Regions from separate parts of the Homo sapiens genome. Here region 1 is linked to region 2. Evidence: fine-mapped expression QTL. Tissue or cell type: aorta. Region 2 holds a variant in brackets; the other region holds the start of a gene. All regions are shown on one strand. Distances are between the middles of the regions.

Evidence for each region. PIP is the estimated chance that this variant, and not a neighbour inherited with it, causes the effect.
Region 1: SAXO2 starts here. The variant in region 2 is fine-mapped to the expression of SAXO2 in aorta (GTEx, PIP above 0.99).

Annotation. Positions count from the first base shown.
Region 1 is chr15:82,259,715-82,264,827 of GRCh38, reverse strand. It overlaps SAXO2 (stabilizer of axonemal microtubules 2), which reads right to left and starts at 2,010. Exons shown (of 4, transcript NM_001348699.2): 1 at 1,896-2,010. The coding sequence starts at 1,948. EFL1 (elongation factor like GTPase 1) reads left to right here and starts at 2,094. Exons shown (of 20, transcript NM_024580.6): 1 at 2,094-2,214; 2 at 3,031-3,140. The coding sequence starts at 3,050. RefSeq lists enhancers at 1,790-1,859, 1,880-1,969 and a silencer at 3,978-4,164.
Region 2 is chr15:82,421,832-82,427,037 of GRCh38, reverse strand. It overlaps a transcript of GOLGA6L9 not described here. Among named protein-coding and RNA genes, the nearest start is that of GOLGA6L9, 5.4 kb to the left of the region's middle. The variant T/A (reference allele first, on the strand shown) is at 2,625.

The sequences.
Region 1 (5,113 bases), 160 kb after region 2:
GAGCTAGAAGTTGTTAGGCGGCATCTTGATTTGCAAGCTGGTTTCCTAACTTGGCAGCTTCTTGACCTTGGAAGAGACGAGTGATTCTGGAGTCTACAGCTCTGTTGCAATTTTCTGATTATGGCAGAGGCAGTGGCTCCCTTGTCAGTCCTGGTCTGTGGTAAAATTTTTGTGGAAGCTTATTTTGAAAATGATTTCTTAAGTTCTTCCAAGTGAACTATATATATACTCCTTAATAAATTCCTTTTTGCCTAGACTAACCAGAGGAGATTACGTTATCCACAACTAAGAACCTTGACCAATATATCATATAAGCTAATAGTATACAGTTATTTAAGAGAATGAGGGTGGTCTTTATGCATGATCATTGGAAGTTGGTGAGATTGTAAATAGTAAAAAACCGGATTGTAGAATAGTATGCTCAGAATATTCTCTTTTTTTGTTAAAAAAAAAAAAAAATCAATGCAGGCCAGGCGCAGTGGCTCACGCCTGTAATCCCAGCACTTTGGGAAGCCGAGGCAGGCAGATCATGAGGTCAGGAGATGGAGGCCAACATGGTGAAACCCCGTCTCTACTAAAAATACAAAAATTAGCTGGGTGTGGTCGCACGAGCCTGTAATCCCAGCTACTCAGAGAGGCTGAGGCAGGAGAATTGCTTGAACCCGGGAGGCGGAGATTGCAGTGAGCCGAGATTGCGCCACTGCACTCCAGCCTGGCAAGAGAGCCAGACTCTGTCTCAAAAAAAAAAAAAAAAAAAAATCAATGCATATGTAAAACAAGTCTTAAAGAACATTTGTTATCTGTGGAAGATAGAATTATGAAGGCGTTTTACAATATTATAGATATTTTTGCTTAGATTTTTATGATACTTCTTGTGTATTTATTGCATTGTCAAAAAATAAAAATAAACCCTTAAAAAGACAAAACTAACAACCACAGCCCAAAACAAACAAACAAGAAGTAAAATCACGCCATTCCAATGGTGGCCCTCAACATAATGAAGACTGAATTTCCTTACAGTTGAATGAGAAAGGAACTTGCGTTGAATATAAATTAGGAGAAAAGTAAAAATTTTCTCCTGCACACCAGTCTGAGGATTCATACACCCAAAGTTAATTTGTTGATATTTTAATCTATATATAATTATGAACTGTGTTTATTATGAGACTATTAAAAAAACTGCTTTCCATCAACATGTAGGTGTTTTCTTTGAATGGGATTACAAATACACCAGGGATTGACAACGTTCATATTTACTTAGCAAATAATGATCTAATCCCTGGGTCAATAGTGAAGCTGAGGAAGGAGAGGACTGTGTTTACAGGTGATGGAAGGTTGTTAGGCAGGACTCACAGTTGGATTCTAGATTTCAGGGTAGGGACTACTTACTGACTTTTCAGTCAGGCGGATCCCAAAGAACTGCTGCCTGGACGGGAATGGGAATATGGTCTGGCTGGGAGGACAGAAAGCTACAGATGAAAGAAAATGTGATATGGGTTGCAGACTCAGGGCCTTGAGCACTGTTCTTTCTCATCTTCGTGGTGGGGGATTATGGGGTGGAAATGCACTCTCCCAGTCGGATCACATCCCACTACTCACCAGCGTTATATCCCGTCGCGGCTTCACATATATTACTTACCTGGCCCGGGTGGCATTTTACTTTGCATCCTTGATTGGGAGTCTCAGGGGCTACGAACAAACGTTTTACCCCCGGGTAGCAGGCGGGTGAGGAGCGAGTATTCGCGGAGCGGGATAAGTGGGGATGTCGCTGCGCCCTCGTCCCTTCATCTCCGGGGGACGGCCACTCTCAGGGTTCCCGAGGAGCCGGCTCCGTGCACCTAGGCCCTAGGTCGGCTCCCAAGCCCGGGCCCGCCGCTACACCAGCCGTTTCTTACCCGCAGCTACAAATCTGACACAGACACCAGCTCCTCATACTCTTGGCTCCCATGCTTTCCTCCACCGCGCCTCAGCACTTGCAGCTTCTCCACTCCCACAGCGCCCGCCGTAGTCAAGGCAACAGAGGGATGCCCGGTGACAGACTCGGCGCCGGCTTCCGGCGGCGTCAGAGACGTGCGGGTGAAAGGTCGAGCGACAGCCGGCCCCGCCCCCTGGCGCGCGGGCGTGTCGGACCCGCAGAGCTCTCGGACTTTCGGAAGCTCTCGGTGTGGGTGCGACCCGAGAGAAGGAGCGGGGCTGGTGGGGCTGCTGCAGCCGGTGAGTGTGGGCTGGCGCTGGGGGCTGGAACCTCCTAGGCCAGCCTTTGGGCGGTGCCGGAGGAACCCGCTCGCTGCGGCTCTGAGGCGGGAACAGGGGCTGGGGCCGAGCGCGGGCTGGGAGCTTCGGTCCCCGGAGTGCCGCTTCCCGTCTGGGGCCGGGGCGGTCGCCTGTCTGTGTGGACCCAGGATCCTCAAAGAGAACGAATCTGGGACCCTGCAGAAATGAAGGGCATGTAGTGTAGAGGTTTTTCCTTTTTATTTAGAAAGGAATGAAAGACCGGCAGTGCACCTGCTTGGATAATAAGCACGTGACCCAAAACTTTGTTCGGGCTCCATGGGCAGGAATAAAGCTGGGTATTTGACCTCGCGCGAGGACGAGCGAGAATGTCAGAATGAGGGACTTGGGGGAAGACTGAAGAGAGAAAGGGAGCATCTTCTTCAGCATTTTCTCTCCCTCCTGGATGCAACCCTTCCTGTACGTGGTCATTGGCCTGGAGATGTTTACTGGAGTACTCCTCCACCGGCAGGGTTACTGGTGTCACTGTGCACCCAGTCCCCTCGAGCTGCGTGATTCATCGCAGCCTTTGGATCCGGAAGGATGAGCAAACTCCTTAAGTGTAATCGTGGTAGGATACTGACTTTAGTGCTCGAACTGGACTTAGGCCTTGGTGGTCTATCTCATCAATAAACATTCACTGGGTTCTTGGTTTAAGGGGTTTGAGAAGCTTGCCACCTCCCAGCGTTTATTATTATTTTTTTCTTTTGCCCCGACCTTTAGCCTCTGGGCCATTTGTAATACATATTTAATTTTTAGTCACAGGAAATAAGTAATCATGGTGCTCAACAGTTTGGATAAGATGATTCAACTCCAGAAAAACACTGCCAACATCAGGAATATTTGTGTTTTGGCTCATGTTGACCATGGTAAGAATACTTTTTAAATGGCTTATTTTGATAAATAAGGGAGATGTGTCTCTGTATGTCTCAGTGGAGTGAAGCTGTGGACAGCTGAGAGTGATGTTTGCTAAGAAGCAAGTCTTCTTTCTTTAAAAGTTTTGTGTGATGTTAGGGAAGCCTGCTTTGCTATAAAGCATTTGAAATGAACACGGTTACCTAGTGAGTAGCATTCTTCTATATATTATGTCATGTTGTTTTTTAAAGCAGAACTTGAATTTTTTGTTTTTGAAATGGCTTTACATATAAAATGTCTGTAGTCTTGACATAATGTCCTTAGAGTCTGTGGTATGTGATCCTATTTAATTCATCAGATATTTATCAAACGTCTGTTAAGTTCAAGATATTTTGCTTAGTATGTCTGAAGGTGGAGATTTATGAGTAGGGCACTAGCCCAGGGGAGGTTTTAACGGGGAGCAGAGCAAAATGAGACAAACAAGAGAAAAAAGTAGACTCTAAGGTTGGGAGAACTAGAGGATTAGGAAGTGAGGGGTTAGGAAAAGACCTCACAACATAATTAGTATTAGAGATGACACTTGAAGGGGGCTCAAGATGACAAATGGAGATAATCATTACAGGTGGGAATGTGTCATCAAGGGGAGAGGGAAATATATGTGGTCAAAGCCCAGTATATGGGAAAGGCAGAGATAGCTAACCCATGGTATGTTCTTCTGACAGATACTGCTGTAACTCCATAGCGCTCCTTCATGCTAAGCCTCCTCTTGATTTCAAACCTCTTGGTAGTTTAGGTAACCACAGCAAAGTGATTGGGATGGGCATATGAAATAAAACATATTTACCATCCTGAAGATGAAGGACCAGTTGGCGAGGTGAAGAAGCAGGCTGAGTCATATCTCATAGAGCTGCTCATGCCAGCTAGGAACTGGGATAAGAGTTGAGTGCTCCAGCTCTGGAGTTAGACAACCTAAGTTCAGATCTCCATTTTCAAGTTACATACCTTGCCTTTTTGAGCTTCAATATACAGCATCTGTAAAACAGGATGAAAACTATACCTGCTTTATAGGCTATAGGATTAAATGTGATAATAATGAGAGGGAAGGTAAACGCTTCACCATGAAAACGATCATTAATGTCTACTATTAGGCAGTAGGGAGCCTTTGGGGGAAAACATGGAGCAGGAATGATGTAATCAAATAAAACATGAGAAAGATTAGATTGGTAGACATGCTTAGGATGGATCCAAAGTCAGAGATTAGGTGGCTGTTGTCATTGATAGAAGAGCTGAAGTAATGTGAGTATGGAAACTGACAGAAAGACAGATAGTGGATCACTTACAAGTGAAGCCAGCTGTGAATGAGTTTTAGTACAAATCCAGTGAGTAACCCCTGCCTCCATGAGTTTTTATAATTTTACTGCTCACATTTTGAGAATGTGAAGGCTGATAAAAGGGTTTTTTTTTTCTTTATGAATTTATTCAAGTGGAAAGTTAGTGGGGTGTAACAAATTACTTTAAATGTATTGTTTAAAATTATGTTAAGCTGCTACTATCCTAAAAAACCTGGGATTCATCCATTCAACAAGTATTTTCTGAAGGTCTTCTATATGACAAGCGTTGTTCTGGTCCTAGGGATACTGCTGTGAATAAAGCAAAGTTCCTGCTTGCTTGATAATTATTTTCTAGGGAGGTATATACTTGGTGTACTTAGAATAAATTCAGCTTTACTGGGTAGCAGGAAAGTGATGCTCTAGGATTATATGCTAATACATATTTACATTGCAGACAGATAGCAGTGTTAAATATCTTCAGTTCTCCTACTCATTGGTCTCTGGTTTGAACAATACAGAGATTCCATAGCTTTGCTGAAGTTCCTAAAGTGCAATAAAGACTTGTCTTGAAGGAAAAAAACCCTCCTTTGCTTACTCCAACCCAGTTGTAGTAATTATGCATACCCCTGACATTCTTTACACAGAATCACCTGTTT
Region 2 (5,206 bases):
GGGCAATGGAGAAACTGGCACTTCTCACAAGAATAAAAATGGCCAGTGGCATATACAAAGATTCAAAAGCACAAGAAATCAAAGAAATGTCATGAAAACAATGAGATTTTCTGTATAAAGGCAGGAAAGATGACAAATGGAAAGGGGAACCTGGAGCTCTGTCCTTGTTGGTGGGAGTATAACCTGAGTCACTTTTCCTGGAGAATGATTTGAAAATTTCTATTAAAAACCCTAAAAATTATTTTCCTCCAGAAATTCTACTTCTATGAATTCAGTCCAAAAATGTTTGCTCGAGCCCATTAAAATGTGTGTATAAGAAAATTCACCTCTGGGGTGGCAGTGATTAACTTAATATACATCCAGCTATTAAAAATGATGATGCCAGGATATATTTACTGCCACAGAAATATGCCCAAAATATAGTAAGTGACAAAAGACTACATACTACGATTCTACTTTTTAAAAGGTTTATGTGCATAAAAACGTATAAAAAGCAACAAACCACAATGTTTTGAGTGGCAAATTAAAGATTTTTCTTAATATTTGTCATCCAAATTATTACAAAAAGAATGATTTCCTTTATAATGAGGGAGAATTGTTATTTTCATTTATTTATATTTAAATATCTTTTCTTTTTCTGATTTTGTTTTCTCCTGTATGTATCCCATGTAGGCTAGAATCCCTGCCTCTTGAGGTAAATCAGCCCATTTTTGGGAAGTGCGCTACAGAAAGCTGCCCCAGCTTCCTTTTAAGAGATCTGGAGACATTTTTTATTTCAAATTGTTTTATCGTTCTCAGATTATTTTGTTTAATATATGAAATTGAGGAAAAGACAAAGGAAAGGCTGACTCCCTACCCTCCTGGGGCTACTCTTCCAATTTTTGCTGCTATTGTTATATATTAATATTCACTGGGTACTAAAAAGATGGGCAGCCCCTTAGATCATTTGTTCTTATCTCTTTCTCATAATCCTACTTCATTCCTTCATTCACTTATTTTTAAAAAGGTCATGTGTACAAACACATGGTTCAGAAAATTTTTAAATATAACTACCTATAAAAGTATGTGGCCAAATCCCATTCACAGTCTTATTCTCCTTCTACAGCCAAACACTTTTAATTGGTTTCTTATATATCATTTCAGAATTTATGTTTGCAAATACACACGTATATTCTTATTCTACTCTTCTCTCTCAACACAAAAAGTAGCATACCATACATACTATACCATTCCTTGTTCCTCTTAAAACACACACAATATATGTGAGTTCTTCTACATGAGTACAGAGGTCTTTGTCATTCTTCTTTACAACCGCACAGTATTCATCGTTTGGATGTACCACAGTTTACTTAACCAGTTCCCTGTTGGTGGACACTGAAGTCATCCCTATCATACTATTACAAACAATAATGCCAAGCATAACCACCCACATACCAAGTTCATTTCTGAATCTGCCTTTGATGAAGCCTCTATTTGAATCACCACAAGGTCACAAGGCTGAAAAGTTAGCCAATTTTTTAGTTTTCATTATGTACAGCAGTATGTAGCAAAAGACTCCCTTGGGCAAAGCAAATGTGCTCTTTGGGGATTTACTGCATAACAATAAATGGATTAACACCAAGGAGAAATATTTCTATTTAACCATGCACATGTATGTATATAATACATGCATATGCATAGATAGTATACAATAAATCCATCAAAGCATTAAGCATTGTCTCAGTATGGTGGATCTATGGAGTGCTTTGTAGACAGCCCTCCTTGCCTATCAATTCTTTCTAGTTTCAAAACAGTGAATATGTACTATTTTTGCAATATAAAATTTCAATAAATGTTAACTCAAGCCAGGTACATTCCTTCAGTCTGTCCTATATTTGTATGGTGCTCCAGAGTGCTCAAATATCATTTCATTAAAAAAATTTACTTATTTTTTTTCAAATATAGAAACAGGCAGGGCTTTGCTCTGTTGACCAGGCTGGTCTTGAACTCCTAGATCCTCCTGGATCCTCCCACTTCCACCTCCCAAAGTGCCGGTATTACAAGTGGGAGCCATCCGGCCCGGCCGGCTTCATTTGAGAAATATTTCCCCAGAACTCCATATATTATGAATAATTCCTTTCTTCTTGTTTAGATACCATCTTAGTCATATCTCTGTTACCTCACTTGTCACATGATAATCAGTTGCTCACCCATCCATCTCCCTTGATTGCTCGAGAAGAGTCTGATTTTCAGCACCTTGAACAGTGTGCAATACATACATGCTTCATACGCAGAGAAGGAAATGATATCACTACAGTGTAATTATTCCCAGAATTCAATGCCCGTATTTGTAAATTGTTCCAGATACTCTGCCAACAACCTGAGAATGTTATGTGTTTTCCCTAAAACTTCCATCGATTACTGAGTGTCTACGGTCATAGTTAACTCAGTTGCGATCTGACCTCTGGCCAAGCCCATTCATAGCTTGTATTATAGGTGATTTTTAATTTTAATTTTTGATTTTGATAGTTTCCTTTTTGTTTTTTTAATCTAGCAGTGTTTGGTAAACTTCAACATCTCTATATCCCTGTGTCTTTGCACCTACTGGTCTCTGCTTGGAATAATAGCTCAAGGTTTTATTCACC[T/A]GGAAAAAATTTCTACTTACCCTTAAAGAATCAGCTTAAATAAGCCGGGCATGGTGGCTCATGCCTATAATCCCAGCACTCTGGGAGGCCAAGGTGGGCGGATCACCTCAGATCAGTAGTTTGAGACTAGCCTGGCCAACATGGTGAAACCTCGTCTTTACTAAAAATACAAAAAATAGCTGGGTGTGGTGGTGGATGCCTGTAATCCCAGCTACTCGGGAGACTGAGGCAGAAGAATCACTTGAACCTGGTAAGCAGAGGTTGCAGTGAGCTGAGATCACGCCATTGCACTCCATCTTGGGCGAGAGAGCAAGACTTCATCTCAAAAACAAAAACAAAATCAGCTTAAATAATACCGTCTCTGAGAAGCCTTTATATCTTCCTATTCTTTCAGAAAGAGTTGAAAATTCCTCAACTCTTAAAACATTTGTGCCTCTATTATTATGTATCAGGCACTGAACTGAGTGCCTAGGAGAGAAAGATGAAACTGTAGACCCTGCCCTCATGGAGTTCATGGTCTAGTATGGAAAACAGCCATATGAACAAATAACCATACTGTAGGTCTTCAGAGCTCAAACCCTATCCTAAATACTGCTAAATTAATATTCTGTGAGGTTTTGAAATTACTAGGGCCAGAGACAATATCGCTGTTTGGATGACTTTCCATCCAAGTTAACATTCGGCCCTCATCATCAAAGGTGGTATGTGTGTACCTCTTCCTTGCAACCCACCAGGGCCTAACACATCATATACCCACTTTTGAAATTAGGAAACAGCCTCAGAAGTCCAAGAGCTTGACCAAAGTAACTCAGCTGGTAGGTAGCAGAACCAGGTCGGTATGATTCTTCTTCAATATCCTCCAAGTTATATGGGCAAGTGGCCTCAAAATCAACAAAAGACAAGTAGAGGTTGACATGCATTAATGGAGAGAGGCTCAAAAGGAAGAGTTTATACACAAGAATAGAACAGAAATGTTCCAGAAGTATGTCTGGGGATGTGAAGTAGGAGGGGGCACACCAGGTTTCACCTTGGTCAAGTGAATCTATAATTCCAACCTGGGCCTCACCCCTGAGCTCCAGACTTAGCTATCTGTTTTTCTCACTCTAATATAAAATCCATAGGGCAGGACTTAATCTCTAGGTTGTTCATCACAAATTAAAGCAGAGTCTGGTTTATAGTAAGTACTTAATAAATAAGTAAACAAACTATCAAAGAAGCTAAAGAAACATTCTACACTCTTGGGGGAAGGGATTACCATGAAATGCCATCTGTCTTTTTCCTACTTTTCAGTATTTGGGGTGTTCTTCATTGAAAAAGATTAGCTTCTTGAATGTTCCAGATAGGAAGAGAGAGGGAGAGGGAGAGAGACAGGAACAGAGAGAAGTTTCATATTTTAACTATGGTTCAATTCTAAGCATTCTAAAATTGTATTGAGTTTTTTATACCATGAATTACAAGGGTGTTTAATTTCCAAATTCATGTAGCTTTTTGTTAATCTCTTCATTATTGCCTTCTAACCTTAATTGCTTCATATTTAAATTATAAATTATATGGTGTGGATGGTACCAATTGTTTTTAAATCTTCTGACTTGCTTTACGAATTAATATATAATTAATGTTTCTCCCACAGTCCACATATGCTTGAGAAGAATATAGAATATCTAATTATTGGGTACAAAGGCCTATATTTGTCCATTACACCATGTCCATTCACTGGTTATTCAAATCTACATATGGGCATTCTGTGTAACTTACTTATGGTAAGCAGGGTATGGTGAAATCTCCAAATATGCTGGCAGACTTGTCAATTTCTCCCTGTGGTTTTATCAGTTTTTCTCCTGCATTTTGAGGCTATTTTGACAGGTACATAAAATATGAAAATTGCTACATCCTCCTAATTAACAGTCAGCATCAAGTTTCTTACTAATGCTTTCTGTTCCAAAATCCTTTTTTGATACTGAAGCTCCATCACTTGTTTTTGGTTAATGTATACTGCCATATCTTCATTACTCTCTCTCCTTTATAAAAACTTTCAATCTTCTCATATCCTTATATTTTAAATATGATGGATTAAAACAGCTGGATATTCTTTTATTAGTTCCACCTAACTGGTAACTTTAGTCCATTTACATTTGTTGTGACTGATTTATGTGGACTTCCTTCTATTGCCTTTAGAACTTCTATTTCTCTCACTTTCTAATATAATTTTAATATCTCCTCCTGGGATTCCACTAAGACATATTTTAGACCTCATTCTGATCTCCCTCCCCCTACAACCCCACCAACTTCTGCCCTATCATCTATCCTCATGTCTCTCTGTGTAACATACTGACTCACTTTTGGGAGATAATTGTCTAACCAACTAATTCTTTCTTCTGATGTCTAATCCATCCACTGAGTTTTTTATTTCAACAATTACATTTTTTATTTCTTTATTTCATTTTATTCTGAGACGGAGTCTCACTCTGTCACCCAGGCTGGACTGCAGTGGCATGCACGTGCAGCCCTTGCCTCCTGAGCTCAAGTGATCCTCCCTCCTCAGCCTCCTGACTAGCTGTGACTACAGACACGTGCCCCATACC